3 separate regions of the Homo sapiens genome follow, and regions 1 and 2 are each linked to region 3. The links come from fine-mapping of genetic effects on gene expression. A gene starts in region 3. Each other region holds a variant in brackets. All regions are shown on one strand. Distances are between the middles of the regions. Region 1 has its middle 170 kb from the start of SIPA1L1. Region 2 overlaps SIPA1L1 (signal induced proliferation associated 1 like 1). Region 3 holds the start of SIPA1L1 (signal induced proliferation associated 1 like 1).

Region 1 (11,004 bases), 170 kb after region 3:
TATCACCACCTGTATGTGTACTGAACAGGAACATGAGGGCCCAGACAGGCAGATCGGCCTCCATGGCCAGGTCCACCTGGGCCCACTGAAGCATCGATAAATTATGATCATCAGCTCTGACCTCAGGTAGTTGGACTCATGAACTCCTTCTTAAGACAGAGGTAGCTGTGAGGTCTTTTTCTGCTTTTCTCATTGAATGGCTACCAAGCCTGACCAACTTGTAAGCATCTTCAAAAACACTTTTTTCCTTTAGTTGTATTATGTCTAAAACCAGTAGAGAAAATTGCCTTTCAGAATAAAATTTGTAGCATGATCATCAGTAGCCTATATTCTAGGCAGAGAACAGCATCCTGACCAAAAGAAGAGGTCTTTGAGCTTCAATTTCCTCATCTTTATATTGAGAATAATCATCAGCTTTTTATCTTTGGTGAGAGAGAAGAAGTAAATGTAAATGTATGCTTTGTATATAGTAGAAACTCCAAAAATTATACCTATTATTTTTTAATTGTTAAGACTTCTTTCCAATACCCCTGCAGCTCGCAGGTCTATGAAGTACACACATTTATACTGATGTAACTAGGCCTCATTTACAAATTCATTCAGAAAATATGTATTGCTGAGTCTTGACATCTTTGGGCATGACATGAGGATAAGAGTCATAACACCAGCTAACACATGCATAGTGCTTACACCCATCCAGGAACTGTTCTGTCCTTTTCATGTACTGACCCACTTAACCATCACAACCACAACCCTAATCTGGAGGATCCCCATCTTACAGATGGGGGAGTCCGAGTTGAGAGGGACCAGTGAGCCACAACTCTCAGAGCTTAACCCCAGCGGCCTGGGTGAATTTCTTACACCTCCTGTAGCTACACCAGGCTTCTCACCGTTCTCATTGCTGTTCCCAGGTGTTCCTCCCCTTGGAGAATATTCTAGCCACCTGTATTAGCCCATTCCCACATTGCCATAGAGAAATTCCTGAGACTAGGTAATTTATAAAGAAAAGAGGTTTAATTGGCAGGGCTGTGAGCCAATTAAACCTCTTTTCTTTATAAATTACCCAATTAAACAGGAAGCAAAGCAGCTTCTGCTTCTGGGGAAGACTCAGGAAACTTAGAATCATGGCGGAAGGTGAAAGGGTAGCAGCCACATTTTATGTGGATTAAGCAGGAGGAAGAGAGATAGCAGGGAGGTGCTACACACTTTTAAACAACCAGATCTCATGAGAACTCACTCACTATACAGTACCAAGGTGGGGATGCTGCTAAACCATTCATGAGAACTTTGCCCTCATGATCCATCCAATCACCTCCCACCAGGCTCCACTTCCAACGTAGGGGATTACAATTGAATATGAGATTTGGATGGGGACACAGATCCAAACCATATGATTCTGTCCCTGACCCCTCCCAAATCTCATGTTCTCACATTCCAAAACAGAATCATCCCTTCTCAATGGTCCCCAAAGTCTTAACTGTGTCCAGCATTAACTCAAAAGCACAAAGTCCGAGTCTTATCTGAGATAAAGCTAGTCCCTTCCACCTATGAGCCTGTAAAATTAAAAAAAAAAGTTAGTTATTCCCAAGATACAATGAAGGTACAAGCATCGGGTAAATACTCCCATTCCAAAAGGGAGAAATAAGCCAAAAGAAAGGGGCTGCAGGCCACATGCAAGTCTGAAACCCAGCAGGGCAGTCATTAAATCTTAAGCTCCAAAATAATCTCCTTTGACTCCATGTCCCATATCCAGGGCACACTGGATGCAAGGAGTGGTTCCCAAGATCTTGGGCAGCTCCAGCCCTATGGCTTTGCAGGGAATAGCCCCTGTGGCTGCTCTCATTAACTGTTGTTGAGTGCACATTGCTTTTCTAGGTGCATGGTGTAAGTTGTCAGTGGATCTACCATTCTGGGGTCTGGAGGATGGTGGCCCTCTTCTCACAGCTCCAGTAGGCAGTGCCCCAGTGGGGATTCTGTGTGGGGGCTCCAACCCCACCTTTCCCCTCTGCACTGCCCTAGTAGAAATTCTCAGTGAGGGCTCTGCCCCTGCAGCAGGCTTTTGCCTGGACATTCAGGCTTTTCCATACATCCTCTGAAATCTCGGTGGAGGGTCCCAAACCTCAACTCTAGCACTCTGAGTACCCACAGACTTAAGACCATGTGGAAGCTGTGAAGGCTCATAGCTTGCACCTTCTGAAGCAGCAGCCTGAGCTGTACCTGGGCTGCTTTGAGCTAAGGCTGGAGCTAAAGCAGCCAGGATGCAGGGAACAGTGTCTTCAGGCCGCTCATGGTGGCAGGGCCCTGGGCCTGGCACACCAAACCGTTCTGTCCTCCTAGGCCTTCGGGCCTGTGATGGAAGGGGCTGCCATGAAGGTCTGTGAAATGCCTTGGAGGCCCTTTCCCCATTGCCTTGGCTATTCGCTCTTGCTTTCCTTTTAGTAATGCGAATTTTTGCATCTGGCTTGAACTGTTCCTTTGGAAATGGGCTTTTCTTTTCTACCACATGGCCAGGCTGAAAATTTTCCAAACTTTTATGCTCTGCTTCCCTTTTAAATATAAATTCCAGCTTCAAGTTATTTCTTTGCTCGTGCACATGAGCATAGGTTGTTAGAAGCAGCCAGACCACTTGTTGAACAATTTGCTGCTTAGAAAAATTATTCAGCCAGATCCATAAATCATCATTCTCCAGTTCAAAGTTCCACAGATCCATAGGGCAGAGGCATAATGCAGGCAACCTCTTTACTAATGCATAACAAAGGTGACCTTTGCTCCAGTTCCCAATAAGTTCCTCATCTCCATCTGAGACCTCCTCAGCCTGAACTTCACTGTCCATATGACTATCAGCATATTGGTCACAACCATTCAACAAATTTCTAGGAAGTTCCAATTTTTCCCTCATTTTCTTGTCTTCTTCTGAGCCCTCCACACTCTTCCAGCCTCTGCCCATTATCCAGTTCCAAATCCGCTTCCACATTTTCAGGCATTTTTATAGCAATGTCCCATTTCTCAGTAACAATTTTCTGTATTGCCAAGACCAGCTCAGTCATGGGGACCCTAACCCAGTGGTGCTAGAGGAATTAAAGATACACACTCACAGAAATATAGCATGTGGAGTGGGAAATCAGGGGTCTCACAGCCTTCAGAGCTGAGATCCTCGAACAGAGATTTACCCACATATTTATTGACAGCAAGCCAGTGATAAGCGTTATTTCTATGGATTGTAGATTAACTAAAAGCGTTCCTTACAGAAAATAAAGGGATGGGCCGAAATAAAGGGATGGGCCTGCAACAGGAACATGTCCTTAAGGCACAGATTGCTCATGCTATTGTTTGTGGTTCAGGAACACCTTTAAGCAGTTTTCTGCCCTGGGTTGGCCAGGTGTTCCTTGCTCTCATTCTGGTAAACCCACAACCTTCAGCGTGGGCATCATGGCCATCATGAACATGTCATGGTGCTGCAAAGATTTTGTTTATGGCCAGTTTTGGGGCCAGTTTATGGCCAGATTTGGGGGCCTGTTCCCAACACTGTATTAGTTCGTTCTCGCATGACTATAAAGAAATAACTGAGACTGATAATTTATAAAGAAAAGAGGTTTCATTGGCTCACAGTTCTACAGGTTATACAGGAAGCACAGTGGCTTCTGCTTCTGGGGAGGCCTCAGGAAACTTAGAATCATGGCGGAAGGTGAAGGGGAAGCCGACACGTCTTACATGGATGAAGCAGGAGGAAGTCGGGGGGCAGGTGCTGCACACTTTTAAACAACCAGATCTCGTGAGAACTCACTTGCTATACAGTACCAAGGGGGGGTGATGGTGCTAAACCATTCATGAGAATTCTGCCCCCATGATCCAATCACTTCCCATCAAGCCTCACACTGGGCATTACAATTGAACATGAGTTTGGATGGGGACACAGATCCAAACCATATCACTGCCATTTCCTTCCTGGTGCACCTCCAGCATCACCTTCTCTTCCCTCCCTTTGTATTGTTTCCTACCCTACTCCTGCCTCCCTCCAAGCCTTCTCAATTCCCTGCTCTATTGTAGGTCTTCACTGAGACCTGTGACAGCCCTCAAGGGCAGGGATGTGTCTGATTCATCTACGCATCTTGGGCCTGGTCTATCCAGGCAGAGGCAGCCTTTCCAGAGAAGAACTGAGGGAACAAGAACTCAAAGGAACAGACCAGGAGCTCCCTGGCTGAATGGAAGTAGGGAGAATTTTACAATAGTGTCTGGATTCTTAGAGTACTGGCCCATCTCTGTACTTCTTAGAGTATAGGAGAGAAGAGTTGACATCCAGAAAGCCATGAGACCTCATTGAAACAGCAGGGAAATCTGCCATTTGGAAGGCATGGCAGGAACATCTCCTGCCCTGACTCCCTTTTCTGAGACAGAGAGAAGCACTCACAGGAACATCTGCCTACACAGCTTATGGGAGCAACCACTTCCTGTAGACCCTGGTGAGGGCTGGCTGGGGAGAAGAGGAGGGCGGCAGCAGCCCAGCATGTTGCCAGGTGGCTAAACCTCAAGGACAGTATGTGCCCAGTGGATCCCTACGCTGATGTCTCCAGGCTGGGTTTAGGCTGGCCCCTTCTCTTGCGTTTGGGCTTTGTATTGTGGGAGAAGTTTCCCATAGATTGTGTCCTAAGACAAGAGAGTCAGGTCAGGAGAAAGACTTCCTGAGGCTCCCTGAACCTAAGCACCAGGTGCAGGGGCCCAAGGCTTCATGGCTGTGGGGTGCCACGTACCCGCTTTGGCATGTCCAGGAGAACTAAAATCCATCCAATACAAAAAGGGAAAAGTCCAGGGGATTTCCATCAGACAAGAAATCATAAAGTTGTACATGTTTTGCCTGACTTGAACCCAGTTAGATTTCTAGGC[G/T]GACCTGGGGAAGAAGTCAGTGGGCCAGAAGGCCACTTTCTTATGGGACTTTGGCCTCTGACTATTGCCGGCAGCACTGGACCAGGAATGTCTTGAGGATGGGGATGGAGTATGACTCTTTTTTGCATCCCTAGCCATTAGCACAATCCATGACATACACTGAGTTATCAATAAGTGTAGGGTCCAGTCCCACAGGGTTGATGGGCTTTCTTCCCATGTGCAGAGACGAGAGAGTGTAGAAATAAAGACACAAGACAAAGAGGTAAAAGAAAAGACAGCTGGACCTGGGGGACCACTACCACCAAGACGCAGAGATCAGTAGTGGCCCCAAATGCCAGGCTGCGCTGATATTTATTGGATACAAGACAAAGGGGCAGGGTAAGGAGTGTGAGCCATCTCCAATGATAGGTAAGGTCACGTGGGTCACATGTCCACTGGACAGGGGGCCCTTCCCTGCCTGGCAGCCGAGGCAGAGAGAGAGAGAGGAGAGAGAGAGACAGCTTATGCCATTATTTCTGCTTATCAGAGACTTTTAGTAGTTTCACTAATTTGCTACTGCTATCTAAAAGGCAGAGCCAGGTGTACAGGATGGAACATGAAGGTGGACTAGGAGCATGACCACTGAAGCACAGCATCACAGGGAGACTGTTAGGCCTCTGGATAACTGCAGGCGGGCCTGACTGATGTCAGGCCCTCCACAAGAGGTGGAGGAGTAGAGTCTTCTCTAAACTCCCCCAGGGAAAGGGAGACTCCCTTTCCCAGTCTGCTAAGTAGCAGATGTTTTTCCTTGACACTGATGCTACCGCTAGACCACGGTCCGCTTGGCAACGGGTGTCTTCCCAGATGCTGGCGTTACCGCTAGACCAAGGAGCCCTCTGGTGACCCTGTCTGGGCATAACAGAAGGCTCACACTCTTGTCTTCTGGTCACTTCTCACTATGTCCCCTCAGTTCCTATCTCTGTGTGGCCTGGTTTTTCCTAGGTTATGATTGTAGAGCAAGGATTATTATAATATTGGAATAAAGAATTATTGCTACAAATTAATGATTGTTATTCATATATAATCATATCTAAGATCTATATCTACTATAACTATTCTTATTTTATATATTTTATTATACTGGAACAGCTCATACCCTCAGTCTCCTGCCTTGGCACCTGGGTGGCTTGCCGCCCACAAATAAGTTTTTATTGATTGAATTAATGAATAGAAGGATAAATAGATAAAAATGAATGAAATGAAGATTAATAATGGATCTTAATGATTCTAGTTTAAAATGCCAGTCATTAGCTAGACCACCCCTCCCACCACCACCACCCAGTAACTAACATCATCTTCTTTCCCAATAATTGGACATGCTTTGTGATAACTTAGGTCACACCTGCCAAGATATCCCAAATTTTACCTACCAAGACTAGAGAACAAGAAAATTTCCATGTGTGCTTCCAGGATAAAATCATTAGACCTTATTAGTTGAAAGACTTTGAAGAACACTGTAACTTCAGTTTCCCAATCTGTAAAATGGGGGTAAAAAGCATAACTATCTCCAATTGTGTCCTGAATTAAATGAGATAATTCATGTAAAGCACTGAGCTGAGTTCAGGGCATCTATTAAATTCTTAATAAGTGCTAGCATCATTATTACCATCATTCCTGGTAGTCCAGGATACCTTTTCTTTTCTTTTCTATTTTTTGCTACAGGGCCACCCACTCAGTCTGCTCCCCAGGCTGGAATGCAGTGCACAATCATAGCTCACTGTAACCTTGAACTCCTGGGCTCAAGCAATCCTCCCACCTCAGCCTCCTGAGTAGCTGGGACTACAAGCACGAGCTACCATGCTTGGCTAATTTTGAAATTTTTTTGTAGAGACTGGGTCTCATTTTTGTTGCCCAGGCTGGTCTCAAACTTATGGCCTCAAGCAATCCTCCTGTCTCAGCCTCCCAAAGTGCTAGAATTGCAGGCATCTACACTGCACCCGGTCTCAGGATACTTTTTCAATGGACTTTAATTCCTTCATACTTTCTGTTTTATAATATTTTGGAGAGTGGGATTTCCCACCCTCAATGTTATTCTTGCCTGCCAAGCACAGGTGTTCTGTCTTTGAAAAGGACAGAGGCTTCTCTTTGAAAGACAGAGCCCCAGGACGGTGGTGGATGCTGCCGCCTTCGGAATATGGTCTCCCCAGAGCAAGCTGGACTGTGAAGTCTGCCAGCCCCAGAGGGACTGAGCAGGAACTAGGTTGAGCAATGGCCTGGTGGCCACTCTGGATCTCCACACTCCCGTCCCGCCACCCCCACCTGCAACAGAGGGCACTCCTCACTCCTCTGGTCTGGGGCTCCCCAGGACAGCTCCAGAGGGCAGGTGCTCTCACTCTGCCCACAAGACTGCTGAACACTGTTAATTTCAGAGCCATAGGGTGGATTCTTTTTCAGGTTGTCAGCAGCATCTATCCCCAACACAGATCCCCTGTCGGCTCCAGCAGGCCTCATTCTGTGAAAGGAAATGGGAGACTCAGGGTCAAATCATTGGAAAAGACAGGAGTTCAGGCCTTGACAGAGCAAGAAAGAGGTCAAAGCCTGAGTTACTAGCTCTACTGGGCTTAATTTCCACATAGGAAGGTAAGGCAAACACAGCAGTGTAGCACGTTGTTGCTGAACGGAACTCAGGTTGATCTGGTCTGACTTTTCCATTGTTCAGTTGAGGACACCAAGAGGCTTGGTAGCCCTGCCCAAAGTCACAGAGAGAGCTTGGGCTGAGCCTGGACTAGACCCAGGTCTCAGGCCTCAGGCTCGACTACCCTTTTTTGTAAGGTCTAGTTTTTGTCGTAAGGGAATGACCACATTTTGTTGAGGCAGCCAGGGACTTATTGCTACCGGCATCTAGTGGGTAGAGGTCAAAGATGCTGCTGAAAATGGCACACATATGACAGCCCCACAATAAAGAACTGTCATGCCCAGAGCGTCAACTCAGCTGACTCTGTTGGCGAGTGTAGGTAACACTCTAGGCTGATCACCCAAGCTTCCTGGAAGAGTGGAATTGCAAGAGGGGAAAAAAATGCAGTGGAAATAGCTTATAGTTTAGCATTTCCACTGTTTGGTGAGAAAACAGGTGTAGTGTCTTTTTTCTGACACTTCTGATACCAAGTGTGTGGAGAGTGTTCCACACTCGTGACCCGTGACTCTGACATCAACAGGAATCCAACAGTCAATTCAGTTCTAACTCCTGGAGTTAGAGCCAACAGTGCATGTTCAAGGCTCCGTCCCAGACTGCCCCTGCTTCAGATGCCAGCCACAAGTCCAAGAAGCCGCCCATACTTCTGACTATACATTTGGGAGTTTCTACAACCCCTTCCTCAGTTTTGATAATTCACAGCTCATAAAACTCAGGAAAACGTATTAATTAACATTTGCCCATTAATTATAAAGGATACAATTCAGGAACAACCAAATGGAAGAGCTGCATAGGGAGGGTGGCAGCCACCACCGTCCTGGGGCTCTGTCTTTCAGATGCACCATCCTTGAAGCGCATCAATGTCTTTCTTTTATTTTTTAAACAGGGTCTCACACCGTCACCCAGGCTGGAGTGCAGTGATGAAATTGTAGCTCACTGTAGCCTCGACGTCCTGGGCTCAAGCAATGCTCCGGCCTCAGCCTTCCAAGTAGCTGAGACTACAGGCACATGCCACTATGTGGCTAAACAAAAAAAATTTGTTTGAGGGGCTGGGCACAGTGGGTCACGCCTGTAATCCCAGCACTTTGGGAGGCTTAGGTGGGAGGATTGCTTAAGACCAGGAGTTTGAGATCAGTCTGGGCAACACAGTGAAAGCTTATCTCCACTAAAAATAAAAAAAGTTAGCTGGGCATGGTGGCACATGCCTGTGGTCTCAGCTACTCAGGAGGCTGAGGTAGGAGGATCACCTGAGCCCAGGAGGTCAAGGCTGCAGTGAGCTGAGATTGTGCCACTGCACTCCAGCCTGGGCAATAGAGTGAGACCCCCCCGTCTCTTAGAGGCTGGTCCTGAACTCCTGGCCTCAGGTGATTCTCTCACCTTGGCCTCTTAAAGCAATGTTTTTCTCAACCCAGAAGTTCTCTGAATCCCTGTCATTTAGGTTTTATTCTTGTTTTTATTAAAACAAAATTTTTTAAAGATATAGGGTCTCTCTATGTTTCCCAGGCTGGCCTCAAATTCCTGGGCTTAAGCAATCCTCCCACCTCAGTCTCCCCAGTAGCTGGAATTACGTTTCAGCCACTGCATCTGATTTCACTTAGGATTTTTTTGGGAGATTTTTATCTGACTTCATTTAGGAGTGTTTTTGCAGGGAGTGGGAGGGCGGGGGCGGGGATTTTAAACACAGCTTTGCTGCTGTGCTTCTCTTACTTTCCTACGTGGAAATTAAGCTCACTAAAGGTAGTAACTCAGGCTTTGACCTCTTTCTTGCTCAAGGTCTGAATTATGCAGGCATGATTGATGAAATCATTGGTCATTTAGTGATTGGACTTTATCTCCAATCCCTTTCCTCTCCTTGAAGGTCAGAAGTGAGGAGGTGGGGCTGAAAGTTCTAATCCTCTAATCACATGGTTGATTTTTCTAGTGACCAGCCCCCATCCTGAAGCTATCTAGGGCCTCTCCATGACTCATCTCATTAGCATACAGGACTATCAGTTCCAAGGATTTTGAGGCGCTGTGTCAGGAACCAGGGACAAAGACCAAATATTTATTTTGTATCATACCACAGCAAGCCCCGGATGGCTCAATGTCTTGGGCTGAAAGGAAGGGGCTGTTTGAGTCAGGAGACAAGAGAACAACAGTGGGAGGTGTCCTCTGTGTTCATACTCCCCTGTGTGGTTTGGTGAGCCTCAGGCTTTACAGGATGTAGGTGATGTGGGCCCTCCGTTACCTCATCTTATACTCAGGCTATGAAATGCGTCAGATGCCAGCCTTCTTGTAAAAGTTGGGGAGAGGCTGCTATGGTCAGAATGTTTTTGTTCCCTCCAAAACTCACGTGTTGGAAACTTAATCCCCAATGCAACAGCATTGGGTGGTGGGGTTTACTGGGAGGTGTTCAGGTCATGAGGGTGGAGCATGAGTGGATTAAAGCCAGTCTAAAAAGGGCTTGTGGATGTGGGTTCCCTCTGTTCTGCATTTCTGTCCTGTAAGGAACAGTGATTGCCCCTGCTCCGGAAGATGTAATGTGTAAGGTACCATCCTGGGGGTGGCCCTCTCCAGACACCAAGCCTGCTGGCACCTTGATCTTGGACTTCCCAGCCTCCAGAACTGTGAGAAATAAATTTCTGTTCTTTATTAATTACCCAGCAATTTTTATAGCTGCACAAAATGGTTTAAGACAGAGGTCATAGCAAGCTTCAGTTTTTACTTTTTCCCCTTGCATCTGAACAATTGCAAGCAGAAAGAACAACTGAGTGCTTTATTTCTGCAACCACCATGCTGCTACTGAGTGAAGGGGAAGGAGGGGTAAGAGCTTGCCTTCTTTCCTTGTGTTAATTGCAACATCTTCCAAAACCCAGCAAGGAAGGCATGAAGTGAGCCTACCAAGGCCAGTCTCCAGATGAGGGGACTATAGCTACAGATTGCTATGTTTCCTGTTGGTGGTGGTAGCAAGATTTCATAGGGGCCTTTCTTGCCATTGCTCAAAATGAAATGCATTGACACCAAAGGAAGTGGTGAAACTGTGGGCATTGTATGCTTTAGAAATTTGATATTTGGAAACCTGCAGACCTGAAGAGGCAGTAGCTTCTCCTGAAGATCTGATATCCAAGGGCTACCCAGACAAGGAGCTGACTTGTCAGGAAGTGTGGTGGACCTTGACGCAAAAACTCAAACCACAAATGTTTCACTTCTAAATTTTTGCAGGCTTTGTTATATAGACATTTTTGTTAAGCCCTGTCTAAAACAATAGGATGACTGGGTTCTTTCCCCTCCTCATGGTGACTACGTGCATCTTCTACGAACATTCCCATGTCATGTGGTCAGCTTCCAAGAAAGACTTTACCAATGAGTCTGTTTACAGATTCTCAACCAGAGGACTTACAGGAATGCACAGTAGCTATTTGTTTGGGATGCAGAGGTACATGAGCCCCAGACCTCATCCCCAATCAGGCAGT
Region 2 (11,004 bases), 240 kb before region 3:
AAAACATGAAAAAAGTGTAAAAATCATTTAACAGACACAAAGTAAGCATTTAATAATAAAATTCTACATGAAGTTTCTTATGGGTTCTATTTTTGATAAACACACTTATTTTAAACAACAAAAAATTATTATTATTATAAAGACTGGGTAATTTACTATGTCCTAAAATGAAATGATACAAATATTAGGGAAAAATAAACAAAAGTATCATTTTTTTTCTGATGTCATAGATATGATACTTGTTATACTGACCATAGTATCCCCAAGAGTCTAATGCACTATCAGGCACATAGATTGAGACAATATAGTATATATATTATGAATAAAATATATAATTACTTACATTAAAAGTTTACACAAATTGTTCAGAAAAAATATTAATAGATCTTTGTGAGGTGACGTCTATGGCTAACAAATATTCTACACCAAGAATGTATCATTTTACAACGTGAAAAAATATACTGTGTTACTTAAGAAAGTAACAGACTAATCAAGAACAGAAGAATGCCATTTACAAGAGGAAAAAAAATAAGTAGGAAATATTTAGCCTGGGCCGGGCATGGTGGCTCACGCCAGTAATCCCAGCACTTTGGGAGGCTGAGGCAGGCAGATCACCTGAGATCAGGAATTTGAGACCAGCCTGACCAACATGGTGAAACTCCGTCTCTACTAAAAATACAAAATTAGCTGGGCGTGGTGGCACATGCCTGTAATCCCAGCTACTTGGGAGGCTGAGGCAGGAGAATGGCTTGAACCCAGGAGGAGGAGTTTGCAGTGAGCCGAGACCATGCCATTGCACTCCAGCCTGGGCAACAAGAGTGAATGAAACTCCATCTCAAAAAGAAAGAAAATATTTAGCCTTACTACCATAAAAGAAATTCAAAGTAATTCTTCACTTGTTAATTAACAAAAAAATTTTTAATTGCCAATAATCAATGCTGGGGAAATTGACAGAAAAACTTTTATTTTTATATCTTGCTGGTGGGCACTGCGAATTAATGCTATTGGATTGTACAATGCTATTGGATTGCGATCAGCTAAATGTTTCAAAAGACATTAAAATATGAAGAATCTAAAGAAAGTAATATACAACATTAAAAATAACCTATATAAAGATGGAATTATAGCATTGCTAATGGCAGCACAAAATGGAACTAAATGTATAACTGGGAAATGATTAAGTACATTGTGACACCAAAGCAATTTTTAAAGTACTATACTACATGGGAAAAATTTTATGATATGGTAAGCCTAAAAAGTGGAATATAAATGTATATATATGATGATCATTGCCCATGTTTTTTGAAAATGAATCTTCAAGCCATTTTAATTACAAATAAAACAAAATTAATCTTCTAGAGAGCTACTAAAAAGAACTCTTTTTAGAAAGCATAAATTCATTAAATAGCTTTCAAATTTCAATTTTAGAGTGTTATGACTCAATTCCCATTTCATCATATACTTAATAACAAGGAAGTCTCTAAAACACAGTATTTGCTATCCTAATATCTAAATCATCCCCTACAATGACAGGATATGTATGACTACAGAAGAATATCTGAAGAACCTGAAAAAAAATCCCTAATTTATTCCAGAAGACCAAGAATCAAGAAGTCAAAATGCACAGGGCTTCTAAGTTTATCTAATACATACTGTCCTCACTCCAGCAGGTATGGAAGACACAGTCCATTAACTAACCCATACTGTTCTCCCAATTCTTTACTAACAACAGATTCTCAAGTTGTTCAGGTGGGTGTGGGACACCTTGGTGTGTCCTAGAAGATACATCAGGAATTTTCTAAATTTTCTAATGGACTCTTTTGCCCTGTGGCCATGGACTGGTTTAGGGGTAACTAGTCAGGAACAGATTAGTCCTAAATCAGGACTAATGAAAAGTAAACAGAAGCCTGCAACACTCTTTAGCTTTCCTGATAAAAAGGGACTGATTCACCTAGCCTTTACCTGCTACCTTCTTACTCCCCCTTCTTCCTCCTGGAGTACATGGTACCTAGAAGAGCAACAGCCATCTTATCATTCATAAGACTAGCATGAGGAAAGATACCAACACAATCAAGGAAAAAGCTCCAGGGTCTCTTGTGGCATCACTGAACATGTGTAACAGCCCTGGACTGTTGATTTCTGGGGCTACTTTTTATGTGGGAGAATTAATTTCCTTTTGCTTATGCTACTAGAGAGGTTTTCTAATGCTTGCAGATGACTGCATTCCTGACACAAGTAAATCTGAATAGGTAAATATGAATTTTATTCACAAATACTTAACAATTTAATTTTTACTAAAAGTAGACAATATTTTGATCAAAGATAAAGTTTAAACAGAAGTTTGCAAGTAGAATGAAGAAACGAATGAACACATTAATGGTAGGTAGATTACAGTAGGGTCTTAAGATGCATCTTTAAATTCAGTTACAATAATCAGAGTCCACTAAAAAATATACAAATATCTTACATATGGAGCATAAATTTAGTGTGTTAATGAAAAAGTCTCACTCCCCCAGCCTATTTTTCAATGATTATTCAAGGACAAGTTTTCCATGTCAAGTCCAGTTCAGTAACATGAAGTGAAACTTTATACAAAAAAAAAAAAGTTTATATAATTCTACTTTGAATGGGAATAAACTTATTTTTTCAATAGTTAGAAAACATGCTTTTGGAAATTTTAAGAATTACATTTTAATTTCGTAGAAAAAATGCAGAAAAGTTTTTATTCTGTTCACAACCATAGATCAGGTTAAAAGCATACTCATGATAAATCAGGAACCAGGTCAAAATCTTTTGGCTTTAAAAACAATTGTTCTTTTTATTACTCTATACTTATTTGGCAGGTAAAGAAAATGTTACAGTGTTTCACATAACATCTCTATGAGACCCTTACCACCATAAATGATAAAATCATGAATGCTTGACAATATTTTACAACAATCCTGGCATAAAATTTTTCTGGGAGAGTCCAATGCCACTGGGCAGGGGAAAATCTATAAAAAGTACCTATTATTAAGAAAAGTTGGAAAAACTTCCTTTTGATGCCTTTCTCTACAAAAAGTAAAGCTGAGGCTGGGCACAGTGGTTCAAGACTATAATCTCAGCACTTTGGGAGGCCGAGGCGGGCAGATCACCTGAGGTCAGGAGTTCAAGACCAGCCTGGCCAACATGGCGAAACCACCTCTCTACTAAAAATACAAAAATTAGCTGGGTCTGGTGGCGCATGCCTGTAATCCCAGGTACTCGGGAGGCTGAGGTAGTAGAATCGCTTGAACCAGGGAGGCGGAGGTTGCAATGAGCTGAGATAGCGCCACTGCACTCCAGCCTGGGAGATAAGAGTGTGACTCCATCTCAAGAAAAAAAAAAAAAAAAGTAAAGCTGAAATTACGATTGAGTAGAAAATGAAAATGTTGACATCTGCTGCTAGTTTGCATGCATCAAAATGCTTCGGCAAGGCCAAGTGCCCTGGCTTACACCAGTAATCCCAACATTTTGGGAGGTCAATGCAGGAGGATCACTTGAGGCCAGGAGCTTGAGATCAGCCTTGGCAATACAGCAAGACCGTGTCTCTACAAAAAATAAGAAACTTAGCCAAGTGTAGCGGCGTGCACCTGTAGTCTCAGCTATTTAGGAGGCTCAGGTAGGAGACTTGGTTGACCCTGGAGGTTTGAGTATATAGTGAGCCATGACTGTGCCACTGTACTTCAGCCTGGGTGACAGAGCAAATCCTGTCTCTAAAAAAACAAAAACAAAATGCTTCAGGAAATTAAAAAGAGACTCCCAGATTATCTAGATTCACAAACTAAACCTACATCAGCAAACTACCTAAGTGCACATATGCCCGTTCAACAGCAACCACGGCTTTCACCAGCCTTCCACGCCATTTCTGATTACAGTTCTGGTTACAGCCAAGTGAAAACAGAGAGAGTGGTTAGCTAAGGCTCTTTAGTAACCTTCTCCCAGGAGAGAAATCTACCTTGAAACATGATGGAGCTCTCCACTGTCTGTAGTTTCCTACTGTCTCCTAAAAACCTATCACTCTTGATGTTATCCAGAAAATTAATGGCAAAGGTAAACCCAGGTTCATCTTTAGAAAAACAATGCTCTCTATATAGTCATGAGATCACCAAACATCTCATACAATGGCTGGTAAATTCTAGGTACTCAAGCAGAAGTATTTCTTTTTCCTATAATTTTAAGTCCGTGCCCTGATATTCACTCAACAAATATCCATTATTCCATAAATATTTGAGGCATCATTCTACATGCTGAAAATACTGCCCTAAAAATGTTTATATTTACTTTGAGAGACAGACAATAAACAAACATATGATGTAAGAGTATCACTACATACTTAGGCTTTAAATTCAATAAAATATTTTTTTACCTATGTCACCTGGAATGCCAACAAGAATATTACTTCTAAAAGTGAGTTTTTGGTGTAAAAATCATGAGACAACTGATTTAAGTATCACAAACCAACACTTAATAATTACCTACGATGTAAGTTAGCAATATTCATTTTCCAGCAAATTGGAAGCATTTTCACTTCAATGGATTTATATATTTCTAAAAAATTGAACTTGTACAAATTAGAAATATAGCAGTTATCACCATAAACTATGTTGGCAGTCAACTTGAGCCTAATGCTACAATCCATAACTATCACAGGAAAGTAAGGTAGGTTTTTTTATATCAGTTACATCTGAAAAGAGTCACAATTTCTGGGCCTCTTAAAGTATGAACTCACATAGGAGTCAATCATGACTAGTTTAATTTTATTTTACTTTGTTCATTTTCATATTTGTATTCAATAAGGTACTTTCGCAACGATCCAAATGTAACAGAACCACAGATTAACACAGAATTAAACAGGCACTCACATCTCAAGTACCACATCAAAGCCAAAAGTTAACAATTAGTGCAAGTGGCCCCTTTGTGCAGAGAACTACAAAAATACAACCTGTAGTAACCATGATCAGCAGCAAAGTGCTCCTAATTCTCAAATAGTGGATTTCTTTTCTTATGAAATTAATGGGTGGTAAGGACTTAGTTTGAAATTAATAAAATATCAGGGAAAAAATGTGATATCTAATGGGGAAACATTTTCCATGAGCAAAACTAATGAAAGAAATCACAAAAGAAAACATTGACAGATTTGGGTACATGAAACTTTTAAACATCTGTACATTAAAAGGCAAACCAAATACTAGTTTAAAAAATACCATAAATACAACGCAGACTGAATACACTGAATATATGCAAAGATTTGTGAAGGAAGATAAAATACTAAGATTCCAAAAGAAAAATGGGAAAAGAAGTATTAATGGGTATGGTGTTATGATAGCTATATTGGTTTTTGTCCACAGTTCCTAGCTCCTAACTCCCACAGTCCTTGTTATAATGCTGGGGTACTTTAGGCCTCAGGAAACAGAATCTCTCTCTCTCTGACCTCCTGTCCTTTCACCTGCCCAAGGCAGGGCTCTAATCTGATTGTGGATCAAAAGACACTCATTCCAGAGAGTCCTGCTCCATATCCTACGGGAAGGAAAGCTACACAGAAAGGCCAAGAAAAGTCTGAATAGACAGGCCTTGCTGGATTTAGATAATGTGCTTTTTGTCCAATCACATTTCTACACGGTTGTCAACCAGGCCATGTAATAAAACCTCCTTGTATAAAAACCCAAAGGACCAGGTTTGAAGAGCTTCTGGAGAGGTGAACATGTAGAAGTTCTTGGAAGGTGGCACGCCAAAGGAGGGCACGGAAGCTCCGTGCTCCTTCCCTGATACCTTGCCCTACACAACGCTTCATCTGAATCCTTTGTAATATCCTTTTAAATAAATCAGTAAACATGTTTCCCTGAGTTCTGTAAGCTGCTCCAGCAAATTAATTAAACCCAAACATGGGGTTGTGGGAACACCAACTTAAAGTTGGTCAGTCAGAAGTCTGGAGGCCTGGATTTACCAATGATGTCCAAAGATGTAAGGGGCAGTCTTGGGGACTGAGCCCCCAACCTGTGGAATCTGACACTATCTTAGGGTGGATAGTGTTGGAACTGAATTGAGAACATCCAGCCAGTGTACGCTGTTTGGCATGTGGAGAAAAAAACCCACAGCTTTTGTCACAGAAGTGTTTTCTGTGTTGATGATTGTCATGGTGGTATGAAAGCAGAGGAAAGACACGGTTTGAGAGTTTTTCTGAAACAGTAGGCAATTCACAAAAGAAAAAATTGGTTAAACATTTGAAAAATGTTTCTGTTCAA[T/C]AAATACAATACAGGCACACCTCATTTTATGGCACTTCACTTTATTGCACTTTGCAGGTGTTTTTTTTACAAATTGAAGGTGTGAGGCAACCCTGCATTGAGCAAGTCTGTCAGTGCTATTTTTCCAACAGCATGTGCTCACTTCCTGTCTCTGTGTCACATTTTGGTAATTCCCACAATATGTCAAACTTTGTCATATTATTACATCTGTTTTGGTGATTTCTAATCTGTGATCTTTGATGTTACTACTAATCTTTTGGGGAATGCCACAAACTGCACTCACAGAAGACGGCAATCAATCAACAAATGTCAAACAATCAACAAATGTCGTTTGAGTTCTGACTGCTCCACCCACCAGCCATTCCCCATCTGCCTCCCTCTCTTTGGGCTCTCTAGTCTCTGAGACCACAACACTGAAATTAGAATGGCCTCTAAGTTCAAGCGAAACTTGAAAGTGAAAGGAAGAGTCACAGGTGTCTCATTTTAAATCAAAAGCTAGAAATGATTAAGCTTAGTGAGGAAGACATTTGAAAGTTGAGAGGCTGAAAGCTAGGATTGTACCAGTTAGCCAAGTTGTGAATGCAAAGGAAAAGTTTTTGAAGAAAATTAAAAGTACTACTGCAGTGAACACATAAATGATAAGAAAGCAAAACAGCCTTACTGCTGAGATGGAAAGTTTTAGTGTTCTGGAGAGAAAGAAGATCAAATCAGCCACAACATTCTCTTAAACCAAAGCCTAATCCAGAGCAAGGCCCTAACTCTCTTCAATTCTATGAAGGCTGAGAGAGGTGAAGAAACTCAGAAGAAGAGTTAGAAGCCAGCAGACATTGGTTCATCAGGTTTCGGGAAGGAAGCTGTCTCCATAACATGAAAGTGCAAGCTCACCAGCAAGTTATCCAGAAGATCTAGCTAAAATGATTGATAAGGTGACTACAATAAACAACAGATTTTCAGTATAGATGAAACAGCCTTCTCTTAGAAGAAAATGTCATCCAGGACTTTCATAGCTACAGAGGAGAAGTCAATGCCTGGCTTCAAAGGTTCAAAGAACAGTCTGACTCTCTTATTAGGGGCTAATGCAGCTGGAGACTTAAAGTTGAAGCCAATGCTTATTTACAATCTGAAAATCGTAGGGCCCTTAAGTATGCTTTAAGAAAAATAAGAGGTATTAATTTTTATAAAATGTGCTCATTAGCTACTGGAAGAGTGAAATTGTTGTTTTTTTTTTAAATTAGGAATATGTATCGAGAGCCTTTAAAATGCTTACATACTTTTTTTCCCAGTTATTTTATTCCTGAGTATTTTTTAAGGAAACAATTCAAAAGACAAAATTCTGTGCAAAAAAAGGGTTCATCACAGCATTATTTAGGATAGCAAGGAGCTATAAACAACCTAAATGCTCCCAAACTATGTTTATAGCAATAAATATTATAAAAAGTGTGGTAGCCCAAGTGTAGCAGATCAGGGGAACAAGAATGAAATTCCCAAAACCTCACCAAAAAATTTTATGAAGAATCAAATCACAGGATGTTGTAATTTGTGAACTGTTATCTTTTTCTTATCAATATAGAAGTTAACAACAACAACAACAAGCTCTCTTTATACAGAAGGTCACCTGTGGGAAGTGTTACTCAAGAATGCTGAGAACATCTTCGGTTTCACAGTGGGGCAGAACTGACAGGGAGCTAAAGACTGAAAGCAACAGAAAAAGAACATCTTTTCTCACCAGCCTACATCAGAAAAGCAGATACATTTTTTTAACTTTCTTCTTTAAAAATCTTTATATTTTTTATTTTTAAGTCTGTGGTGTTTAAGTTGCACGATTTTAAGGTCATCTGCTTTTAAATTCAATATCATGGCTTCATGTGTGCAAAGAAAGCAGTAATACTGTTTAAAAAGAAATGAGGAATCTAAACTTCCTTAAATTAACATTTGAAGGTTTGAGCACAGTGAAACCAAGGTTCAATATCAAGACATTAATTTGTTCAGAAAAAAAAATACTGTATCTTAAACAGAAAAAAATCTCTAAACTACCTTTGCTGAACAGAAATAACGTATCAGTACCATGTTCCTACAAACTAACAGAAGATGCTACAGGTCGTAAATATTAAGAAAGAAAACTTTTTTCTCTAATTTTATATTCATTCTTGCTACATTTGAAAGGACTGAACGGAATATTCCATTCAGATAGGCCAAAGTTCAAAGTCTGTACCTGGATGAGGACATGAATTTCAAACACAAACCACAATCTGAAAAATAGTCTGTCTCTAGTTACTTTATACAAAACACTATGCTAAGGTCTCAATTTAAGAAAGCTGACAAGAATTGCATTTATTCAATGAATCAATCAGTTCTACACTAAAAACTAGGTTACATACATTCTGATATTTGTTTTCTATATGAAAAAAAAAGAATTGTATATGATGTAGAGTAGCCCTACCTAAACAATACAATGGGATCTCTGAAGCACAGAAATCTATAAAATGGGTTCAGGCCAAGGAAAAAGTCTCCTTCCCTACACATTCCTGGTATATTTTACCTTATCTCAGAATATCAATTCACAGGTCTGTTCAAATTATACTGTTAGCATTTCCTAAGAAAAAATAAGCTCTGAAAAACATGCCTTTCCTATCTTGACATCCAATTAAAACATTCAAACTAATACCCTATTTGGCTGACTGAGGTAAGGAGGAAGAGAAGAGAGGAAAAAAGAATGCAGAAGCAAAATGTTTTTTCCTCTTCTGTCATTACTGTTTTTAACTTAACATGTCTCAAAGTGTTTAGCTCCATGGTGATGGGAGCAGGCGAAAAATATAGAAACACTGAAAGAACAAATTCCCCCAGAATATTTTAGGGTTCCTAACACAAAGTGTACTGTGGAATTATAGAAACATACAAGTTGAAAATAGATTCTTATAACTTAGTAATGGTGGAAGATGAACAATCTTTCCTTATAATAGCTTTTAAAAATCTGCTACATTCACCCCACCAAAAAAGCTGAGCCAGATTTCTATCTGATTTTTTAAAAATTATTATCTCTCAGTATAAAGGAAATAGAAGAAAAAGTATTCATTGCTTAGAAGAGTGGATTTCAACAGGGGAGACTCTGCCCTCCAGAGTGACACTAAGCAGCATTTGGAGATATCGGCAATCTGAACTGAGGAGGCGCTATTGGCATCTCGTGGGTAGAGGCCGGGGATGCAGCTGAACATGTAATTCCACAGCCCTTCACAACAAAATTATCTGACCCCAAATGCCAGAGTCCTAAGGTTGAGACCCTGGTTTAGAAATACTTTCGACACTGAAATGTGCAGATTTATAACCACTCAAGTTCCAAAAGACAGTCCCTTAGGTCAAAGTAAGGAAGGAAGGCTCCAAGGCACTCGGTAGTCCCCACAGACTGATGTATGGAATGACTGAACTTTCATACTAAGGATACAAACTCAAAAGCTGCTGCAGGAGAAAAGTTCAACCATTCAATAAATTACCAGCTTAAAAGAAACAGGATCCCAGCACTCTGGGAGGCCGAGGCGGGCGGATCACAAGGTCAGGAGATCGAGACCATCTTGGCTAACACGGTGAAACCCCGTCTCTACTAAAAATACAAAAAAAAAAATTAGCCGGGCGTGGTGGCGGGCGCCTGTAGTCCCAGCTACTCGGGAGGCTGAGGCAGGAGAATGTCGTGAACCTGGGAGGCGGAGCTTGCAGTGAGCCGAGATTGTGCCACTGCAATCCGGCCTGGGCTAAAGAGCGGGACTCCGTCTCAAAAAAAAAAAAAAGAAATAGGGTATGGGAAAATACATTTGTAAATAAACCTAAAATTTTAGCTAACATAAAATCAGTATAACCTATTAAATGAAGATAATATCAATGATATTCTGTACCTTTTGTGGTAGTAATAATAGCTATGGTACAATTAATTTCCACTTACTGGTTCTTGCTTGCTAAAACTTTCAAGATCTCAAAGTTTTAATTAAATGGCTTAGGATACATTTATTCTTTACTACAATTAATAATATTTTCTGGCCCTTGTTCTGTGAACTGTCCTAAAGCCTGGGGAAAGGATGGCGGGTACAGCAATCAAAGCCATCACTCTTGAGGGGCTTACAGTCTAGTAGGGGAGAGTGAGAACAAGCAAATCAATAAACAAGATAAACGTCAGATGGCTAGAAGTGCCATGCAGAAAATTAAAATATAGTAATATGATCAAGAGTGGCTGGCTGGCTGGCTACTTTAAACTGATTTGGTCAAGGAAGGCCTCTTTGTGAAGTAGTCATTTAAGATAAGATGACTAAATGTCATGAAGGAATCAGTAACACAAAGCATGAATGTTCCAGGCAGAGGGAAGAGCAAGTGGAAAGACTCTGGGACATGAGCAAACAGCGTGTCCAAGGTAAAGAGTGCCAGTGTGGCTGGAGGGGAAAGGGAAATGACCCAGAAAAGAAAAGACAGATGGTGTGGGGCTGTGAGGAAGCTTGCAGGGCCTGGTATGGGGTTGGACTTTAAGAGCAACATGAAAGGTTGCAGGTTCCACATCACTGTCTCATGACATAACGCAGCTCAAGATCAAACCAGCTTGCATTAAGGTGGGATCAGCAGAGATGCAGAGAAGCAGACAGAGTTGGACACTTTTGGTAGTAGAGCCAACTAGGCATACTGATGGATTAGATGTGGTTAAGAAATATGTTACTGATGGGTTTAGAAAGAGATGAATCAGGGATAACTGCTGAATGCTTAGCTT
Region 3 (11,004 bases):
AGGCATACTAAATCCTAATTAGAGGGAGAACTTAGTGCAACATGACAAGCAACAAATTGGAAATCTACAGGTTGAAATTTCTCATCCCAGACTCCAGAGGCAAAGAGAAATGGCTTCGCCTGACTTTGTGGCACACCCACCAATGCACTACTACTTACTACGGGCCAGCTAAAGCAGCTCCTGACATCCCTCCATGTCATTTTGGTGTCATCTCTCTATGCCTTTAAGAAAACACTCTGTTCTATTTGCAAATGGGGTTATCTTACTCTCTCCAGGCCAGAATAAAAGGAGAAAATGGTTGTTGACTGGTGAACATTACCTACCATTAAAAGATCTGCCCTGATGGTTTTTTGTACCCTCATGATCACAAACCAAATCACTGTGTTGCTCTGTCCCTTATGCAAATCATCCATGTTTAAAAGACCCAGAAGCCACAAATCTTTCCCATGCTTCTAAGACTCACTCCAGAGCTCATCAACAGTCCACTGAATAAAAATAAATGAGCTATCATTTAAGAATAATTAACTTAAATATAACCTTTGAAAGCAAGGTGTCATCAAAGCATGTGGGTTTTGTTTTTGTTTTTGATTAGCTAGGCATAGAAAAAAACTAAAAGCAAAAATTCAATGAGGCCAATTGATTTCCCATACCAAAAAAGTAGAAGTGCAGCAGATAGAAGGTCAGATTGTCAGTCTCAAGGGATAGTGGAACACCCTTATTTTACTGCGTCTGTCTGTAGAATAAGACCCAAACTTCTGTGTGAGCAATGGCAGAATACCACAATGCTTATCTCTCCCGGAAGAAGGAAACCCCCTCACCTCAAGGGCATTCACCCAACCAGCAGGGAAGTTTCTTCTCTGCTGGCTCAGATTACTCCACTGGAAGGTAGGGTGGCGCAACATAAATCAGTCCCATTTTCAACAGGAAGCTCCTACACGTTCCTGTTTTATGTCCTGTTTTATCTCTCCACCTAACACCCCCAGCCCCAATCTCTGGTTACCCTTACATGTCGCTGAGAAAAAAGGTCTAAAATTTAGTTGGCCATGGTCCAGAAACAAGGATGGTACACCTAATTTCTTCCGCAAATGGAAATGAGTTTAAAAAGAGAAGAAAAAGATGAACCAAAATAAACTGAGTTTAGCTTTTCTAAAGAGCTAAAGAGTACATTATGCTCTGTGCAAATAAAGATTTCTTTAAAAATGAAACAAAACAAAAAAGCCTACAGGCTCTACTATGTAGAAACTTTAACTCATATTTTCTTTTTCTGTAACTTTGTCATTTAATTATGAAGCTCGGTTACCAATGTTGTTTTCATAGCTTTACAACCTCACCACAGATCGTTCGTTTCCTTAAGTTTTGCATCTCCTCATTTTGGATATTTAATAAATACTGAACTCTTAAGTGGGGGGAGAAAGTAGTAAAATTTTAACATAACAGGCTCTAAGGTAGGAAAAAAAGAAAAGAAACGAGTGCAATTAAATATGGACACCTGTCTTCCAATCACTGCCTAGTCATTAACCAGTTCTATAACCTTCAACAAATCACTTCAACTTTCTGGGCTTCAGTTTCCTCATACGTAAAATGGGAAACATGAGCCAAATGAGTCAAAATCCCTCCTAGTTCCAACAATCCATGAATCTGTCCAACAAAAAGTAAGAAAACCCTATTACAAATAAGACTTTATAGTTTACAAAGTACTTTCATACATGTATTCTCATCAATTTTTGTAGCTCATCTGTGAAGCAAGTCTTGAGCCCATCTCCGCAGGAAACAACAGTAAAGTTCAGAAAGAAGTTCAATTATTTTTCAATATCTCACAACGAAAATGGCAGGGCAGGTATTTGAAACCCAGACCTTCTGAGGACAAATTCTAGGTTACATTATTTCAAAATGTTAAAATATATTAAAATTCAAAAATAATTGCCTATTATGTATAACCTTTACGAGGGCATCAGGGTACCATAACTCCATGCCAGAAAATATTACTACAAATGGTCCCACTGGACTACAAGTTCCATGTGGCCAGGTACACTCTTGCTCATCACTGTAATCACAGAAACCAAAAGTGCACCTGCCAGATAGCAGCATTCAATAAATATTGCTTGACTCACCACTCAAAAGGTTAGGAATATAGGGATGCTATGGGGAAAAAAAGAAATTTCTGAATTTATTTTCAGATTTGAACTTCCATGATTTGATCCAAAGGGGAAAAAAAAAAGTGTGCTCTATCAGCGCTCTAGTTCTTTATTATGGGAATGAGTCTATTTGTCTTCCATAGAGAAAATCTAATATGGTCAGTGAACCAAAAGGCTCAAATCTGAGATGTCAACAAAAAATCTTCAGGATATTCATACTTCATTTGTGCACTGATACGGACCAATAACAATGATAATACAACGGTAAGGACTGATAAGAGGCACATAGTCACATTATTAATCATGACAAACTTTCCATCAAATTCCACTCTCATACCATTTCAGCTCTCCTCATGCTCCCATTTCACAGCTCAAACAGATTTTTAAAAAAAGAAAAACAGTCATTTATCTAAAAATTCAGATTGCAACTTAAGATAGAACATATATACATCACAACTCAACCAAGATCCCCCCGAAGTCTACAAAACTGCTAATCTCAAGCAATCTTCAATCTATGACTTCAATAAACTCACTAGAAAGTGTTTTTTAAAAGTTCCTAAACAATGAAGATGGGGGCACTATACCAAAATTACACACATACTTCAAAGCAAAAGCAAAGCAAATGCAGAAGCCTGAAAATACTAGTGTAAGGACAGAGACAAAAGAAGAGTTAAATGAATCTCAGTACAAAGTATCAGAGAGGTGCTTTGCAATTATTACCTGGAGTTGAAGTCAACCTTGCCATAGACTCCTCCAATGAAATCACAACTATCACTGACTGATACTTCAGATTTTAAAAGTTCACTGTACCAGAATTGCAATTTCAAACTCGAGGAGCAGAAGCAGGAACTGCAGAGAAGCTAACAACAGCAACACCTACTGACTGTCTCAAGCCACTCACCAAACTTGTTCACTCAGTCAACTAGAAAAATCAAATGACAGTCAACTTCAAGAGTCCTTTACTTAAGCATTAATAAGAAAATTAGTTGTCAGAGACATAAAGCCATTCATCCCCCAAATCTCTTATTTTGCCTCTAACCATTTATGTGGAAACAATCACTCATCATTTTAAATGCACTGTTAATTGTTAATGCTTTAGCATAATTGATTCCATGGGAAAAATGTTTTAATATTAATATTGTAGTTAATAACTGGGATGTCATCTAATAGTTGGACACATCGGTGGCCATAATAAATTAGCTGAGACCTACTGTTATTACCACTGTTCCATATTATCCTCTTTTTTAAATCCTGGTAAAGGTAGCTTAATTGCAGCTTTCAAAAAACGAAGAGAAAAATGACAGTCGTTAAATCAGGATTATATAGAAAACTAATATTATTACTAAACTGGCTGCAGAATTCAGTATGATCTAACCTTGCACGTTTCCAAAAGATTCAGTCAGAGAATCTTTGCCTTGGACGGATACTCCATAGGAGAAAACAGGAGAAAGTTGACACTTAACTCCCACAGAGTACCAGCATAAAGACAATGGCTTTAAGAGTCTGACTCAGAGTTTCAACATGAAAGGTTTGCTTTATAGAGGAAACGCCAATCCCAGTCCATCCAGATAGACCTGGAACCTGATGAAAGTCGACACCTTTATTCTGAAATTTGCATCACATCGCTGGCTCCAGTTTAGAAACATGATCGTTTCACAGGTAGTATGCATTTCAGCGAATGCTGCCTCTAAACTACCCGTCAGGAAAAATAAAATCTATAAGGTAATCGTAGTCTAGGAGCCATCAATCCCCAAATGCTTCTCTTAGAAAACGAATGCCAACAATTTAGCTAAACATCTTCCTTGGAAGTGAGCCATTTCCCATGTCTCTCTGTTCTCCAAACCGCGATGAAATTTCAACCTGCCCAACACGATTACTGGTCCACCTAGAAATGCCGTGGAGCGATTTAAGAGCCTCGGAAATTTCCTTTAAGGTCAGGAGAGAAGCTGGTAACAGATGGGGCGAAGGAGGAAAAGTTCTTTTTGCGGCACCCTCACGCCTTCCCAGCCCTTTCGCGGTTTACTCGCTCCCCGGAAAGCAGGTTAGAGCATCCCAAAATTTCATGTCCCCAAGACCCCCAAAGGGGAAATTAACCACCCTCGGGCACCGAGCTGTTCGTCTCCATTTCCCACAACTCAACCAACTCGGCCTGCCTACTCCAGCTCAGGCTGCAAAGCGCTCACCCAGGTGACTGGAGGGGAAGGGTCGCCAGGTGGCGACCAGCTCAGCGGGGTGGACGCAACCGCCCGGACCGGGACGCGGGTCTCCTGGCCTCCCGCAGAGACGCCTGCCCAGTAGTTGTGCAGATTCGGGTTCTGGGGTGCGTGCGCGCGCGCCGGGCGCGGTGAAGCCGGACTCGCCCCCGCCGGGCTAAGCTACCAGCAAGCCACCAAATCGAAAATCAAACTTTAACCGGCCTCCTGGGGTCCTGCTCCGGGCCCTGGACCCCAACCCCGGCCAGAAACAGGGCAGGGGGCTGTCAGCCGTCCTGCACCCCCGCTCCCCCCAGGACCCGGGCGCGGGGACCACTTACCGCTCGGCCCGGCCTCCCGGTGCCGCCGCGCGTCCCGGGCGCGTCCGCCGCGCGCTCTCCCTGGGGAGAAAGAGAAACCGTGTAGACGGCCGGCGCGCGCTCACTCGCCGCCTCCTCTGCGGAGAGCGGCGAGGCCGGCCCGAGGCGGGCGCCGAGCGCGGAGCGGAGGGGGGCCCGAGGGAGGCGGGGGTGGAATCAGCCCAATTCCCGAGGCTGGCTCCGAGGGGGACCCGGAATACAGGCTGGCGGGGGGCCGGCGGGGGCCGAGCTCCCGGAGGAGGGGAAGGCGGAGGTGGCCCCGTCCTTGGGCATCAACTATTGTCTAGGCGCCCGGGCCCCCGCTCGCGCCGTCCCCGAGGCTCAGCGCCCCCATCCCGCCCGCCAGCAGAAAGAACTGAGGGGGCGGCCAGTACGGGAAGCAAGTGCGGGGGTCCGGGCTCCGAAGGTCCAAGGTGGGCGCGAGGTTGCCGGGGGGGGGATGAGGAGGTGCGTACCGCATGGGGGAGGGGACAGGTAAGTGCGGACGGGGGCGGGAAGGCCCCAACGACCGGTGGGGGAGGAAATGGGGAGGGAGCCACAGAGGCGGGAGGGAATGGAGTGGCTGCGGGGGCGGCCTCTGGGGCCCAGACCTGGCCCTCCCCGGGGACCCTCCAGCCGGGGACTCGGCGCTGCACTGACTTTTCGCTCACTCGCTCACGCACGCACTGAACTCGCTCACAAAGTTGCCGGCAGTGGCGGCGCCTCACTCGCCCTTCCCCTCCCCGCCCCGCCTCCCGCCCCATTCCTTCCCCTCCTTCACTCCTCCCTCTCCCCCAAGTCTCGGGTGAGATCACCACGGAGCGGCTTAGCGCGGCGCACAAGTCTCGCGAGAGAAGCGGCGGCTGGGCCCTGCAGGCGGAGGAAGTGGAAAAAGTCGCGGGAGGGTAGGGGACCGCGGAACTTCTGGTTGCTATGACGACGGCAAAGCCCTGGATTCCTGTCTCCTGCGGAGAGCAGAGGCTGCAAACGTGGGTGCAGTTTTCAACCTGCCCGGCGCACTGGCGGTGGGGAAAGCTAGGGGTGGTTGCGGAAGGATAATTTTTAAGCCGATTCAAGAGGGCATCTCGAGAGGACCACAGTCATGATATCTGGCCAAATTTGGCAAATGAGACTAATGTATTAAGAGGTTCTGGGACAGGTTTCTGCCTTTCTAGGCAGCACATATCTGCACCCCAAATTTCTACTATATATTCAGTTTTTCGGCCTTCTCTTTCAATCTAATTCCTCCATCCCCACACTCCCCATGCTGCCTCCCTCCTCCTCTTCTCAACTCGCAAACACACGCAGACTGGGCTCCTTCAGGAACTGGCTCATTCATCTCTGTATTCTCAGCGCCTCTATAGGCTTGGTCCATACTACATATTGGCCACTTTTTTGACAAGTTGAACGCAACAGTCCATGCCTGTCCTCAGTACTTGCCTTTGGCCCTAACCTAGAGAGTTCAGTCAAGTTTGGACTCTATCAAGCTACCCTCCCATTTCTGTTAACACCTTGTCTTTTTCAATGGTAATAATCTCTGCTTTCTCCATATTTTTCTCGTAAAAACCCTATTCACCATGGTGAGGGGAACTTTTTTTTTAATCATTAGGCATCCGCAGACGCCTTTATACGTACTCCAAAATGCTAGTAAGGATGAAGATGAACTCTCCTCAGCCCGTGTCTTTTAACTGTAGAAACTTTTCTGAGGTGAGGGTTATTATATACTCACTGCCTAAGTAAAATGGATATTATGAATAGAAGTTAAACTTTAGATTTCAAAATGAATGAGTAAAAATAGATACCATTGTATGTGGATTATATCTCAATTTTTAAAATTCCTATCCATGAACATGGGGAAACCATTATTTAACTCAGTCCCACAGAACTAGAAACCTAAAGCATAACCTAAGCATATGAGGACTAGGCAGTCAAAACTTGTAAGTCACTTGCAAGTTTAAATCCTGTCAATGAAAGTTTGTGTATTAGAAACCTAAGTGATACTAGACAAAGTCAGCAAACTAGGGTTTACGTTTTTCTGTGCCACTAATAATTGAGTCTCCTTGAGAAGTTATTTAATCTCTCTGATTCTTCATCTGTGGGGGGTACCCCACATGTTAGGTTATTACAGCTTTAAAATTCTATAGCTGGCCGGCATGGTGGCTCACATGCATAATCCCAGCACTTTGGGAGGCCCAGGTGGGAAGACTGCTTGAAGCCAGGAGTTTGAGACTATCCTGGGCAACATAGAGAGACCCTGTATCTACAAAAATAAAAAATATTAGCTAGGTATACTGACATGCACCTGTAGTCCCAGCTATTCAGGAGGCCGAGGCTTGAGAATCACTTGAGCCCAGGAGTTAAAGGCTGCAGTGACCTCTGATCACACCACTGCACTCCAGCCTGAGCAACACAGTGAGATCCTGCATCTAAATATATATACACATATGTATGTGTGAGTATATATATATATATATATATATATATAATTTAATATAAGAGCTCTTAGACCTATAAAATTTTCCAATAAATAACAAATCTTCCTTTTACAGCAAATGATAAAAAAAGTTTCATCTTATAGTAGGTCAGTTTCACAAAGAGTAGCTATATGTTGACAATTTTCTTTAAATGTTGACAATTTTATTTTAAAATTTATCTTGTCCCAACTACAAAAACAACAAAAATATTGACCATGTTACAGTAATTTCAAAGGTAATCTATAGTTCATGATTTGCTTTTACACTAACTCAAAGCAGATTCCTTGTTATTTAATAAATACTCTAATTAAAACCAAAGACCCAAACTAAATACATCCATACTCCCAAAATAACTATAAGGAAAGAGGGAGGGAGGGAGGAAGGAAAGGAAGGAAGGAAGGAAGGAAGGAAGGAAGGAAGGAAGGAAGGAAGGAGCGAAGACTAGATCTGTGGAAGGAAGGAAGGGAGGGAGGGAGGAGGGGAAGGACGGAGGGCCTCAGATTCATTTACTGGTGTGTTTAATATCACATTTTCACAAAGAAACACAATGGAACATCACCATCAGTCCTGTGAATCTGTTTTAAGGAACCATTTTTCATAACATTGCAAAATATTATAAATCAGTTGTTGCTCATTTGTTCTGGCTTAGCTTTTAACATAATTTTGCCCTTAAAAGATGGCTGCCAATCTACATCCACCAACGCAGTACAATTTCAGGACCATCTGTTTTATGACTCCCAGATAGCCATTTGAAATAATTGACCCAAATGCTAGCCAAATCTATTAACATTCTTCAGTGCTTCATATAAGGCTCAAGAGATGGGTGTTGGCCTCAAATTACAAAAATAACCTCCCTAATCTTCAGACATAGTAAAATAGTAGAAATTGTCCCAGGGATCTAAAACTGCTTTTTCAAGGCCCTGGGCTACTATTTATCCCTCACTGATGGCAGAACTTTCATCCGTGTTTCTAAAGGAGATAAAAAGTGAAAGCTACCAAAGCCTAGTTTCCAACTGCACATTCTCTAGGTCAGTCACTCCTGCTGTATCTTCCTGACCTTCCTAGGTTTCAAAATAGCAGATGTCAGGCAGCAGAAGAGGGAAATGCGGAATGGAGAGTTTGCCAAGAGCACAGACTAGATCTCAGTCCACTTCCTGTCCACTGTCTTGGCTCCTCTACCCATCTCTGCTCAACCCCTTGCCTTTGCCCTCCAACACAAAGGATATGTAACCTTTCTAGTGATAAGAACATCTAGTCATTTGCTATGTTGTTCCCTCCCTATTTGCTTCTTATTTCGTTAAAACCCAGGTGAATTCATTTCCCTCTGGTTATTTACCTCTACTCAACAAAACACCCTAATGTATAGTGTATACCAAATATAGAATGAATTTTGACACAGAGGCCTACCATACAAATTTTATGTATTTTTTAATATTATAAACACTGACTCACATTTGCATGTTTTACATTTAAAATCTGATTTAACTGGCCTATTCAGAACTCCAGTAGCTGTACATCTGCAGGGCATTATTCTAAGTGATATTTAGAAAGATTACTCTAAATCATTACAAAGGTCCAAAGTGCCCTCAAAATTATTCAGGATTAAATGATATCCCATGTTGTTTTAATTTTAGGGTGTTATTATTTTAGCCTTATTGATGTAACTCTGTTTACATGAATACTGGATTCCTTAGCAAATGCCCCTTCTCTCATTTACATAGTAGTATTCATTACAAGTTTAAAACACCAACTACTTTATAACGTTGTTATAAATAATTATAACGTTCTGTTAATCAATTAACAGCAAAACTACTATACTTCCCTGTGCTCTTCCCTCCTCTTTAAAGGACTGTTTCACATCTTCTCCTCCTTAATCAAACCTCTGCCTAGTACTTCTAGCTAATGGCCTTGCTCCCTCTTTTGTTGGTAAAATAGAAATAATCAGAAGAGAACTGAACACACATACCCTCTCTATCACTCTTGTCTACCAACCTGCCTGCATCTGTCTGCATATACTCCTCTGTCCTTCCTGTCATTTATGAACTCTTGGTGCTCTTAGCCAAGATTAGCCTCGGTCTGTGCATTAGTGCCATCACCTCTAACTCAGGGACATTGATTCAGCAACTGTCCCCACTCTCTCTTGAATCAGCAAATTTTCCTTCTCTACTGCTTCACTTCTAAGGGCTTACAAGCATACTGGAATATCTGCCGTGGTAAAAACTAAAATGCTTCCTAAATTTTATGTCTCCCCCTGCTTCACTTTATAACTGGAATCTTCAAAAGGCTCTTCCATGCTTGGTGTCTTCAATTCCTATCCTTCCCTTCCCATGAATCCACTCTGAGCAGCCTTTCACCCCCACTACTCCACAGCAACAGGTCTTCTCAGGGGCATCAGTGACTGCCTTATTGCTAAATCTGGTGCTCAACTTCCAAGCTCACCTGGCTGGAGCCCTCAGCAGCAGGGAAGAGGTCAACCATGCTGGTTCTTGAAATGTTTTCTTCCCTTGGCTTCTGAGCCAAGAGTCTATCCTAGTTCTTATCCTACCTTTCTGGTCTTTTTAGTCTTGAACCTCTCAACATAGGAGGCTCCAGGACTCAGACTTTGGACATCTCTTTATGGTCTCTTTTCACTCTGTGGTGAGCTCACCAGTCTGATAGTTTTAAATACCATCTATACATTAAATACTCCCAAACTTACACCTCCAGGCTAGTCATCTCCCCCATCTCCAGATTTGTACATCCATCTGCTACTCAACATCTGCAATTGATTATGTACTAGGTATTTCAAATTTCACATGTTTAAAACTGATGAGCTCCAAATATTCCCCCAAAAACCAGTGCCCTCCTGAACTCCAGATATCCCTCTCAAAACCGGTTCCCTCTGGGAGGCTGAGGTAGGTGGATCATGAGGTCAAGAGATCGAGTCCATCCTGGCCAACATGGTGAAACCCCATCTTTACTAAAAATACAAAAATTAGCTAGGCATGGTGGCGCGTGCCTGTAGTCGCAGCTACTCAGAAGGCTGAGGCAGGAAAATCACTTGAACCTGGGAGACAGAGGTTGCAGTGAGCCGAGATCACGCCACTGCACTCCAGCCTGGCGACACAGCAAGACTCTGTCAAAAAAAAAAAAAACAAACACTTCCCTCCAGCAGTCTTCCCCAACTCTGTTAAGGATATCTTCCCAGAGGTTCAGAGGTTTTGTTCAGAGCCAAAGTCTTGGAATCATCCTTGACTCCTCTATTTCTCTCTCATCCAAACCATCAACAAATTCTGATGGTCCTTTCTTCAAAATATGTGTAGAATCCAACCACTTCCACCCACTGCAGCTCCACCTCTCTGATTCAAGCCATTTCTCACCTGGATTATCACAATTGTCTCTCTACTGGTCTCCTAGTTGGTTTCCCTACTCCTGCATTTCCCCTCCAATAATTTGTTCTACACACAGGATCCAAAGTGTGGAGCATGAGTAAGTCTAATCTTGTCACTTCTCTGCTAACAAAGTTTCCAGGACCTCTCACCTCACTCGGAGAAAAAGCCCCAGTTCATATTCTGGCCCAGGAACTGTATATTCTTTGACTCCCAATCCCTCCCTCTCTCCCCTCCCTCTTTCTACCCCAGCCACACTGGCATTCCTGCTATTCATTGACTATACTTGGTGCTCTACTGCCTCCAGGCCTTGCATTTGCTCTTTCCTCTGCCTGGAGAGCTTTTTCCCCAAATATCTGCATGATGCACTTTCTGGGTCTGTTTAGATGTCTGTACAGAGGTAACTGTTGGTAATCTGCCTGCTTGCTCTTGGGTGCCCTCTCTTGTCCTGCTCTACCTTGCAGTAGGGCTGAACC

The links. PIP is the estimated chance that this variant, and not a neighbour inherited with it, causes the effect.
Region 1: its variant is fine-mapped to the expression of SIPA1L1 in whole blood (TOPMed, PIP above 0.99).
Region 2: its variant is fine-mapped to the expression of SIPA1L1 in whole blood (TOPMed, PIP above 0.99).

The regions. Positions count from the first base shown.
Region 1 is chr14:71,142,273-71,153,276 of GRCh38, reverse strand. No RefSeq gene overlaps it. Among named protein-coding and RNA genes, the nearest start is that of SIPA1L1, 170 kb to the left of the region's middle. The variant G/T (reference allele first, on the strand shown) is at 4,882.
Region 2 is chr14:71,551,434-71,562,437 of GRCh38, reverse strand. The region is part of intron 4 of SIPA1L1 (signal induced proliferation associated 1 like 1); the gene reads right to left. Among named protein-coding and RNA genes, the nearest start is that of SNORD56B, 160 kb to the right of the region's middle. RefSeq lists a silencer at 6,296-6,395 and enhancers at 6,816-6,875, 6,986-7,045, 7,206-7,265. The variant T/C (reference allele first, on the strand shown) is at 6,264.
Region 3 is chr14:71,314,846-71,325,849 of GRCh38, reverse strand. It overlaps SIPA1L1 (signal induced proliferation associated 1 like 1), which reads right to left and starts at 5,374. Exons shown (of 24, transcript NM_001386936.1): 1 at 5,347-5,374; 2 at 4,669-4,728. SIPA1L1-AS1 (SIPA1L1 antisense RNA 1) reads left to right here and starts at 4,002. Exons shown (of 4, transcript NR_184180.1): 1 at 4,002-4,176. RefSeq lists enhancers at 749-1,048, 5,736-5,895 and a silencer at 4,456-5,475.